Homo sapiens: one gene and its partner. The protein of the gene in region 1 interacts with the protein of each later gene in a biochemical or structural test. Each region holds a gene or a part of one and is shown in the gene's direction. Other genes may lie near its edges.

Region 1 (7,100 bases):
CTGAGTGTCAGCATGAAGCATGTATCAGGTGAGATGCTCAGAGTCTGATCACAGGAGGGAGGCCATCTGCAGCCAAGGTGATGGGTCAACGTGGCATTCCTACACCCAGGAGAAAGCATCAGGTAATGAGTACCCAGGCACTGGAGAACTCAAGAACAAACATGGAGACTGCCCAGGGGAGAGATATGAGGGACAGGGGACAGCAGGAGATAGTCACTCATTTCTTTTTTTTCTTTTCTTTTCTTTTCTTTTTTTTTTTTTTTTGACAGGGAGTCTCGTCTCACTCTGTCACCCAGGCTGGAGTGCAGTGGCGCGATCTCGGCTCACTGCAACCTCTGCCTTCTGGGTTCAAGCGATTCTTTTGCCTCAGCCTCCTGAGTAGCTGAGATTACAGGCATGTGCCACAACACCTGGCTAATTTTTTTTGTATTTTAGTAGAGATGGCAGGTAGTCACTAATTCGTAAGGCCCTCCCAACTTTAAGGATGGTGATGGGTAGGCCAAGTAGCCCCCTGTTCCTCAGTATTCTAGTATCCCAGTATTCTAGTTCTGGTTTCCTGTTAAAGCCCCCGCTCCTGCTCCCACACACACACTAGTACTACCACATACAACTCATAGGTACAACTGGGGGAGAGAAGTGGCCCAAGGGCCAGTTCTGTCACTGCAGGGAGGTGGCAGCTGTGAGGGTAGTCTTCCTTCCCCCCAGGATTCTCTGTTTCTACTGGCAACAGGGCCTGGCAGCCTCCCACACCCAGATCTTAGCAACCATGGGAACCCCTGGCAACCATTACCATGGTGACAAGACAGGGAACTGAAAACAGGCTGGGGGCACTTCCTCTGCAGCCTTCGGGATGTGAGCAGGATAGGGGCTCCCTTCCCTATACAGTCTGGGAGGGAACATGTGCCTCTGTCTAAAACACCTCCTCACTGGCACCCACCCCCACCCCTGCCCACGGGTTCCGGTTCCCTCAGGGTGAGGAAATGAGGGACACCTAGGGTTATGACGTCTCCAAGGGGAGGGAGGGTGAGTGGGGGCGTTTGGGACTGGCATGATCGCAGATGCGTGCATACGCTGGCAGACATGGTGTCAATGTGTCAGTGCCTATATACCTTATCCACTCTTTGTCATGTAGACACATGCCCGCACAGTCATTTACTCACACATGTACACTGACCCAAAATCATATACCTACAACATATAACAGAATCAGGCACACCACCACACAAAAATAACTGCACAGATCCACTCACAAATCACATTACCAGTACCACACTACAAATAACTCCCAGACTCACAGATTTATAGATGCACTCGCACTCCCAGCATCTGTGAACATGTAGAGTAATGGTTAACTTGGTTGAGTTAACCAAGTTAACCATTGGTTGGGTATAAACTACATGCCCAGCTCAGAACTAAGTGCACTACCTGTGTTACCTTAATTAACCCTCTCAACAACCCCCTGAGGCACCAATCCCCATTTACAAAGGAGATGAGGCATGAGTGTGGCGTGTAAGCTCACAAGGTGCATAGACTCCAGACCACACTGTCACAGTCCATGCCACACTGAGCACTACACACACGTGACACCCAGGACAATGGGACTGAGGGCGGGAACCGAGGACTAGGCAAACAGTGGAGTCTGTGCCACCAACACCTGAAGGCACAGTTCTGCACCCTCAAAGGTCCGAGCCTACACTTTAGCATTAGCAGGGGCCAGGTAAAGGCTGGTGACTAAACTCTCTGCCTCCGTGTTGGCACAGGCAAGGCTGGGGGAGGCAAAAGAGACAGAACTGGAATAGGAAGAAGTAGAGCCACCCACAGCCTGGGCCCCACAGGTGTGGAGGTGGAAGAGTGAGAGCCCCCAGATCTGAGGAGCCAGCAGCGGTGCAGGGCCCCTCACCCCACCTTACCCATCTCTGTGTCACACAGAGATGTCCATCCCTCCTCCCTCCCCTCCCCCTTCCTCACTCCTCCTCACCCCATCTCTGTGCCTCATCCTTTCATTACTCACCCCTTCTTTCCTCATCCCTCACCCTGCCTTCCTGCCCCTCCCCAGCCCTTCTTTCCTTATCCCCCACCCTGCCTTCCCTCCCCTCCCCAGCCCTCCTTTCCTCTGCCCTCCTTACTCCCACCCTATGGCTCATCTGCCCCATGCCCCTCCCCTCCTCATCCCCCTCACCCCATCTCACCATCCTCTCACCACCCCCTCTCCCTACCTCCCCCCCTCAACCCCATTTCCTCAAATTCCTCATGCTCATTTCCCCACATTCATCACCCATCTCTGCTCCCCTCCTGGCCCCCAACCCCACTTCCTTTCCATCCTCCTTTCACCCCAAGTCTCTTTCTTCCTTCACACCTCATGCCCCTTTACCCTTGGGAGCCCCATAGTGACTCCTGGCATGAAGGTAGGTAGTGAAGAATCTACAGACATGACTCCAGGACCCTGGCACCCCCCCCCCGCCTTGCTCTGCTCTTGGCCCAGGTACTCAAGCTGCAGTTTCTAGCAAGACCTCATGGGTGTCCAAACTCTGTCTCTGGAAAATAGGAAAGAAAGAAGTAAAGGGGAGCTTCCGGCCTGACCCTTCTATCATCATCAACCCCCCAGCACTCCCCTCCCCCACTTCACCCCCAAATTACTCCCTCCCCACCCCCGCTCCCTCGAGCACAGATGGGCCTGGGAGACAGTGACGTGGGCGCCAGGCACCGTGTCTGCTGGAGTGGCGGCTTCCGCTGGCGACCGCCTCCGCAGCCCCGCCTGCTCCCTGCATCGGGGACACTGGGGCTGAGATCTAATGACTTAATGGGGGGTGGGGGAGACTAGAGATTCTGAGGGTGTTAAGGAAGGGGATCTTGGGGAGTGAGATGAAAGATGAAAGGGGAGAGCTAGGATAGGAGATCGGGGTGTAAAGAAAGAACCAAGAATAAGACAAAAGGGATCACTGCGGGAAGGAAGACAGGAGATCATCTAGGGCCAAGAAGGAAAGGGCTAAAACACAGGCACTCCAGGGGGAAGCAGGATGAGAGACTGATTAGAAGAGGGACTGAAATGGAGACCGCGGGGTCGCTGAAGAGGGGCGCGAGGATGAGGGGCTGTACAGAGGGTGGGCGGGGGAGATTCCTGGAGGCACCGGCCTGGGCAGAGCCATCCGTTTCCCTCGGGGGAGAGGTCCGGGGGGCTCTGAAACCCGGCATCCGTGGGGTCTGTTAGAGATTCCGTTAGGTCACATCAGGCCACCGCGGGGTCAGGATAAGGTAAAGCTAAATGAGGTCAGCTTGAGGTGGTTACACCGTTGGCTGAAAGGCGAGTAAGAAGTGCTGACCTTTTGGCCCCGGTCCAGGGACTACACCTCCCAGAGTGCACTGTTCTCTCCCTCTTGCCCCCCAATGAAGAAAGGAAAGAATGCACGGCCGCACGGCCAACTGGTGGGTACAGTTTTCCTTTAAGGCTGCCTTTGACGTCGCAAGGGTTCCAGAAGGTTCTCCTGGGATTCGAGCAGTGGCCAGTACGTCCCACCTTCTCAACCCGGAGATTGGACTAATATAGTTTGCCCCCGGGCTCGGGTCTGAGTCTCAGGCACGAACCAATAAAATCAAAGGGCGAGCGAGGTTGCCGCCCTCTGTCTTTTTCACCAATGGCACGACAAGATGGCAAAGAGGCGTGGTTGAGTGATCCCAGAGGGCGCCAATCAGATCCACACCAATCACTGCCTGGAATGTGTGCGCGTGTGGCCGGGTGACAGGGGCGGAGGATGGGCGGCTATCACCAAGCCGCTTGTTGAAAACTGCCCAATCACAGTGGAGGCTGAGCTGAGTGACAGGAAGACGGTTCAATGGGCGGCGCGGAGGCGGAGCCGTGGGGGCGGGCTCCCGGTCCCGCTATCGGCGGCCGGCGGGCAGGCGACTCCTGTCCCGGGTGGAGGCGGCGGAGCCGGAGCCGGGGGAGGGGGCAGCGGCTGTCTCACGGACCACGGCGGCGCCCGCAGCTCCTCACCGGTGAGGGCGCCAAGCCAGGACTCGGGGGTCCCGGGAGCGGGGCGTCGTGAAGCCAGGGCTCCTGGTGTTGGGGGGTTGGGACACTGAGGGCCCGTAGGCTCTGCTGCCTTGGGGATGCGGGGCCCCGGGGTCTGCAGGGTGCTCGGAGTCCTAGACCAGGGCTTGGCTGTCACAGGGGGCAGCCAGCGTCTGAGTCGGGGAGGGGAGGGGAGGGGAGGGTCGAGTCGGACCGGACCAGATTGGGTTCTGTGGGGCGGAGGCATCTGTGAGCAGACCAGCCAGCCAGCGCGGGTGACATCACCGACCACCCTCCCCCGCCCGAGCCCCCTCCCCTCCTCTCCTCGCCGCGCCTTTTGTCCCGGCCGAGCTCCGCTCTGCCCCGCCCATCTGCGAGGGAGGAGACTCCCGTCAGTGACTTCATTGAGTAGGTTCTTGGGGATTGGGGTCGGGTCCTCCCCAGTGAGAGGCGACAGGAGCTCACTGCCTCTCGGGCCCTCACAATCACACCTGTCACAGGTATACACGCTGCCACTCACAAACACACGCTTGCACTCCCAGCCTCACTGACACGCTGCCATACAGCCGCTCACAGCCAGCCAGACACTGCTGCACCTGAGAGCAGGTGGCCGCGGGTCTTCTCCCTTCACTCTCCACATTTGGGGATCAGGTCCGGCACCTGCTGCGCCAGACAGGCCTTGCTGGGCACGCGCCTCTGAGAGTCCAAGGAGGTGGCTTCCAGAGCTGCAGCACTTCAGGCCGGCTCCGGTGGAGCGATCAGAGGTGAGGGGCTTGGCTGGGCATGTTTAAGCGCACAGTGCTCTCCTGCCCACCCCCAGCAGCACCCCCACTGCAGGCCCGAGGAGCTTTCCGGAGCTTCCCACACTCCTGGGGAGAAGACTTCTTAGCCAGCTTGATGTTTAAAATTCAGCTGGAGCCCTTAAAACTTCGAGCGTGGACGCTGAATGGGTTTGTAAAGTTTCGGTAAGTCCCTCCGGAGAAGGGCACTCACACCCATACCCAGTCAAACCCTCCACGCGGCCATCCCCTCCATTGCCTTCCTGCTTCCTCCAACTCATCCTCATCCCCTCTGTGACATACAGGAACCCCCCTCCGGCCTCACCCACATATTTGAATGAATTGCACCCCTTATCATTCCTTTTCTCAAACCCTTCAGGTATCCATTTTCCACAGACATTTCCTCCATTATTTCAACTCTCCACATTCCTCCCTTTCAACCCATCATTAACCCATTTTCCACCTCAGCCATTTCCATCTGTCACTCATCCCCCTCCATCAGTACCTCATTTTCTGTATCAGCCATCTCCCCTCCCTGTACCTCAACAGTCCCCCTCGCCATTTTCTCCCCATTTTTCCTTCCTGCCTCTACCTTAACATCCTCCTCATTCTTCTCCATCAAAGGCAGTGCCATGCCATGGGGCTCCTTTGTCATTCCAACACGTGGCCTGTGGGTAGGGGGGAAGGGAAGGAGGGAGGAAAGCAGAAAGAGAAAAAGGAGGCAGATCCTGAAAGAGCTTGCCCTGTGTCTGCGGAGGCAAGAGATGTATGGGCCTAGAGCAGCTAGCAGGTGGGTACCAGGGAGGAAGCTGGCCGGGTGTGGAGGTAATGCAGGGACACCAAAAGGAGGTGGGTGGTTGGTGAGCCGTTCCACTGGCCCTCTGCCTGGAAGCTGCTCTCGTTCTCTAGGGGCACCCTCTTGGTGTGCTAGGGTTCTTTCCCAGTCCCAGGGGAAAGAAGGTGTGGGTTGAGGCAGAAATGGCAGACCACCCCCCCCCGCTCCCTCTCAGACGGCTTTTGCTGCCATTTCCGAAAACGGTTGCCCCCCCCCCCAACGAGGTGCTCTTTCTTCTCTGCCTCTCCCAACCCCACCCCCCACCCCATCTCCCCCACAGACGTGACATGCTGGTGGGGGGCAATGGGGGAGTACCCGCCTTTGTGGAGCCTTTTCTTCGTCAGAGAAAGGTGACTCCCAGAACCATGAGTCAACCCAGCCACCTGCAGCAGGGCCTGTGGGGGCAGCAGTGAGGGCCATTGTCCCTGCCCACCTAGGGCCTTGGGCGCCTCCCCCTTACCCGGTTACAGGCCTCACTCCTGGAAGGACACCCTGTACACCTCCCTGCTGTGAAGCAGTCAGAGGCAGAAAGGCAGGTCTCAGCTGTGGCTGCCAGCCTAGGACATTGCTAGAAAGACTCTGGTTCTCCTGGCTTTGGCAGGGGTTGGCCAAGTCTCAGAAGGGCTGAGAATGGCTTCTGGCCATCCCCCAGAGAGCTCTAGCTACAGGAAAGTCCCCCTTCCCCTGATATCCACCACAGACACACCGATAGAGGGAGACTGGAATGGAAGAATTCGGGTTGTACGTTTCTCTTATAACAAATGCTCCTGCACCCACCTTAAAAGGGACTCAGAGGAATATGGGTCTGATGATGGGCCGGATCCTAAACCACAGGGTGGACTGGGGGCGTAGGGTGAGGCTAGGAGAGGTATTAAGGAAATGGTGGTTGGTTAGTGCCCAATTGTCTCCTAACAGCTGGGGTTGAAAAAGTCCTGTCCCCAGGATGCTTTTGTTCACTCACACTGGTGCTTAGGCGGCACAGCCCTCACAGTTTTGTGTGTAGACGCTGGCAAATGAGTAAAGGGAACTGTTGCCCTGGTTGGGGGAAGGATAGTGTCGCCCCCCCTGCTAATGAGGGAGTTGGAAACAGCAGTTTCCAAAGGCTGTGAGTCACCCTGTGATCTGAGTCACACGTGAGGCTTAGCATCGTCAGAGGGGTGGGGGCGGGGAGGCCTGGGGTCTCCGATGGCAGACAGGACTCCAGACACCCATTCCCTGACTCAGTCTGGCTGGCCAGGACAGCTGGCGGAAGACCCAGGCCTGTTCCCGGTCCTGGGCCACTGCCCCAGCTGCCCTCAGCCTGGGCACCATGCCTGAGGCGTGGCGTAGGAGACCACGATGCTCAGGTGACCTCACCCGTTACACTGACCTTCGCCAGCTCCTGTGTGTGGGTCGCTCAGTCCATGGTGCCACCTCGCTCAGCAGGGCCTCTCAGGGGTCCTCAGTCTGGCCCAAGGACCAGGGCCTCAGCCTAGCC
Region 2 (3,207 bases), on another chromosome or scaffold:
AGTTTCTAAAGAGTTTGGTTTTGTAGAAACCAAAATTTTAGAGCTGGAACTAAAAATCTGCTGAAACTTGTGGCTTTTTCTACCCCAAAGAACCAGTTTCTCTTATGTGTGTCAGTAACTCACTCTCCTCCCCACCGCAAATCTTTGAAGGTGAAGACCTACAGATAGTAAACTTTTTGGCAATGAATAAATAACTTTTCTTCTCTTTATTTTTTCTCTTTTTATTTTTTTCCTTTATTTTTATGGAGACAGGGTGTCCCTATGTTACCCGGGCTGGTCTCAAACTCCTGGGCTCAAGGGATCCTCCCACCTTGGCCTCCCAAAGTGCTGGAATTACAGGTGTGAGCCACCATGCCTGCCCTTATTTCTTAAAAAATTAAGCTTATAAGGACTTCATCCCTGATTGTTTAATATTTAAGGTGAACGCACATAACAAATTTAACCATTTTAAAGTGAACAGTTCAGTGGCATTTAGTAGCTGGTTGTGTATTGTGAATATACCACCGGCTCTACCTAGTTCTAAAACATTTCTATTGCTCCAAAATAAAACCTGATATCATTAAACCATTCCCCCCATTCCCCTCTCCTCACTTCCCCTGGCAACTACCAATCTGAATTCTGTCTCCATGGATTTAACTCTTCTGGATACTTCTTATACATAGAATCTTATAACATGTGACTTTTCATGTCTGGCTTTTCACTTAGATGAGCCTAAGAAACATGCTATATGTTGTAGCATGTGTACTTCATTTCTGTTTATGACTAATATTCTATTGTATATACACACCATACATTTTTTTATTTTGAGACAGAGTCTCGCTGTGTCGCCCAGGCTGGAGTGTAATGGTGCGAACTCTGCTCATTGCAACCCCCGCCTCCCAAATTCAAGCAATTCTCCTGCCTCAGCCTCCCAAATAGCTAGGATGACAGACGCCCACCGCCACGCCTAATTTTCTTTTGTATTTTTAGTAGAGACGGGGGTTTCGCCGTGTTGGCCAGGCTGGTCTTGAACTCCTGACCTCAGGTGATCCACCTGCCTGGGACTCCCAAAGTGCTGGGATTACAGGTGTGAGCCACCACGCCCCGCCTACACTATAAATTGTTATCCATCCATTGACGGGCATTTAAGCTGTTTCCACCTTTTGGCAAGTGTGAATAGTGCTGCAATGAAAGTGCGTAGTATTTTTTTTGAGTACCTGTTTTCAATTTGGGGTGTATTTACCAAGGCGTGAAATTGTTGGGTCATGTAGTAATTCTTTAACTTAACCACCGAACTAGTTTCCACAGTAGCTGAGCCATTTTTTGTTCCTATCAGCAATGTACTTTATAGTTCTTAAGAGTCTTTATCAACTAAAGCTATTTTCCATTTCTCTTCATGCTAACAGTTGTTATAGTCCTTTCATTATCCTCCTTTCTTCCTTCCTTGCCTCCAGCCCACAAAATATCAGATTAACTGATTAGTGTCCTGATTAGCTGAAGCTCCATATAAATATAAGTAGTACAAGTACATGACCCTTAGCACAACGTGCCTGCATAATTTGGAAGCTGGAGGTAATGGTGGTGTTTGGTTGTTGGTGAGAGATGAGTAGGGACTAATACTTCTCAATGGTGGAGACTGTTTGATTCATGTTTTTATCCCTGTAATTCCTACAGCAGTTATGATTTACAATTTCTTGAAACAAGACTTTACGAGTGACAGTAGTACAGTTTTCCCCTCTAATAATCCCTTCCCATGCACTAAAATTTAAAACTCTTTTAAATTTAGAATTTTAAACTAAAATTTAAAACAAATTTAAAGCTCATTTGTCTCCATCTGTTATCAATATTAGGGAATCAAGATGTTAACTAGAGAGGACGTGGATCAAAAGAAGTCCCTTTTGCTGGTAGCTAAGTGCCCGCAGGTGCTGATGAAATTACTCTGAGGCCATATTCATGGCACATGTAGAGATAACATTCCACATTTCATACTGAGCACTGTGTGAGCAAAGATGACACCCACAGAGAAGTTCTAGAAAACTCTGCTCTAAGGTTTCTGTCTTGTGGAAATATGGCTGTAGTTGCCAAATTATTTACCCGGAATAAATGCCATTTCTCAGGTACAGCTAAAGAGATGTCATATTAAAAGTAATTGGAGACAATACAATGAAATTTTAGTGTTTAAGTAAATGTTGGTATTTTTATATTAAAAATTATATAAACCTGGATTTCTTTATAGGTGCCAAAGAACGTTCTGAGATCTATGAAGCATTTGAAAACATCTATCCTATTCTAAAAGGTTTTAAAAAAGCCTGAGCATATCATTCAGCATCTCACATTATTCTGGTTTGAATATGTCCATAAGCCCAGCACAGAAACAGCTGGATTCTTCTACGTTTAATTGTAGATGTTACAAGTACGTTACTTATTAAAGGGCGACTCTGTGTAAGTAACCTAAGAAACGAAGAAAAATTCTTATTCAAAATGACTCCTTTTGTGTTATTTTAAAAACTGAACAAGTAAACATTTCAAAATTTGAGAGATTTAGGGTCTCACTAGAATGATATTGTAGCATCATGAAGACTCAATGCGTTTCCTTTTAGCCGGAAGGGCCATCTTCCAGTAATTTGCCAAAATGACGAACACAAAGGGAAAGAGGTGAGGCACCTGATACATGTTCTCTAGGCCTTTTAGAAAAGATGGAGTTGTTCCTTTGGCCACATACATGCGAATCTACGAAAAAGGTGATATTGTAGACATCAAGGGAATGGCTGCTTTTCAAAAAGGAGTGCTCCGCAAATGTTACCACAGCAAAGCTGGAAGAGTCTACAGTGTTACCCAGCATGCTGTTGGCATTGTAAACAAGGGCAAGATTTTTGCCAAGAGAATGAATGTGCTTACTGAGCCAGGCTGGTCTTGAACTCCTGACCTCAGTTGATCCATCTGCCTGGGCCTTGGCACTCTAAGAGCCAAGTAAGTTTCCTGAAACGCGTGAAGGTAAATAATCAGAAAAAGACGTCAAAGGGAGAGGTGTCTGAGTTCAACTGAAGCGCCAGCCTGCTCCACCCAGACAAGCACTTAGAACCAATGGAGGGAGCCTGGGCTGCTGGAACCTATTCCCTATGAGTTCATGGCATAATAGGTGTCAAAAAAAATTCTGAACTGTACAAATGTTTCTCTTCATTGAGAAGTGTGGCGCCGCCCCCTCCCCTTAAAGAAATATTTAAACTA

What was found.
Region 2: the proteins of DNAJB5 (region 1) and TBPL2 form a complex in vitro, tested with the Homo sapiens proteins (one study listed by BioGRID).

Annotation. Positions count from the first base shown.
Region 1 is NC_000009.12:34,985,839-34,992,938, forward strand, and holds the start of DNAJB5 (dnaJ homolog subfamily B member 5), read left to right. Parts: upstream 1-3,906; 5' UTR 3,907-3,993; intron 3,994-4,451; exon of another isoform or gene 4,452-4,660; 5' UTR 4,661-4,792; coding exon 4,793-4,974; intron 4,975-7,100.
Region 2 is NC_000014.9:55,413,464-55,416,670, reverse strand, and holds the end of TBPL2 (TATA box-binding protein-like 2), read left to right. Parts: intron 1-2,215; coding exon 2,216-2,292; 3' UTR 2,293-2,461; downstream 2,462-3,207. UniProt on the Homo sapiens protein: Transcription factor required in complex with TAF3 for the differentiation of myoblasts into myocytes. The complex replaces TFIID at specific promoters at an early stage in the differentiation process.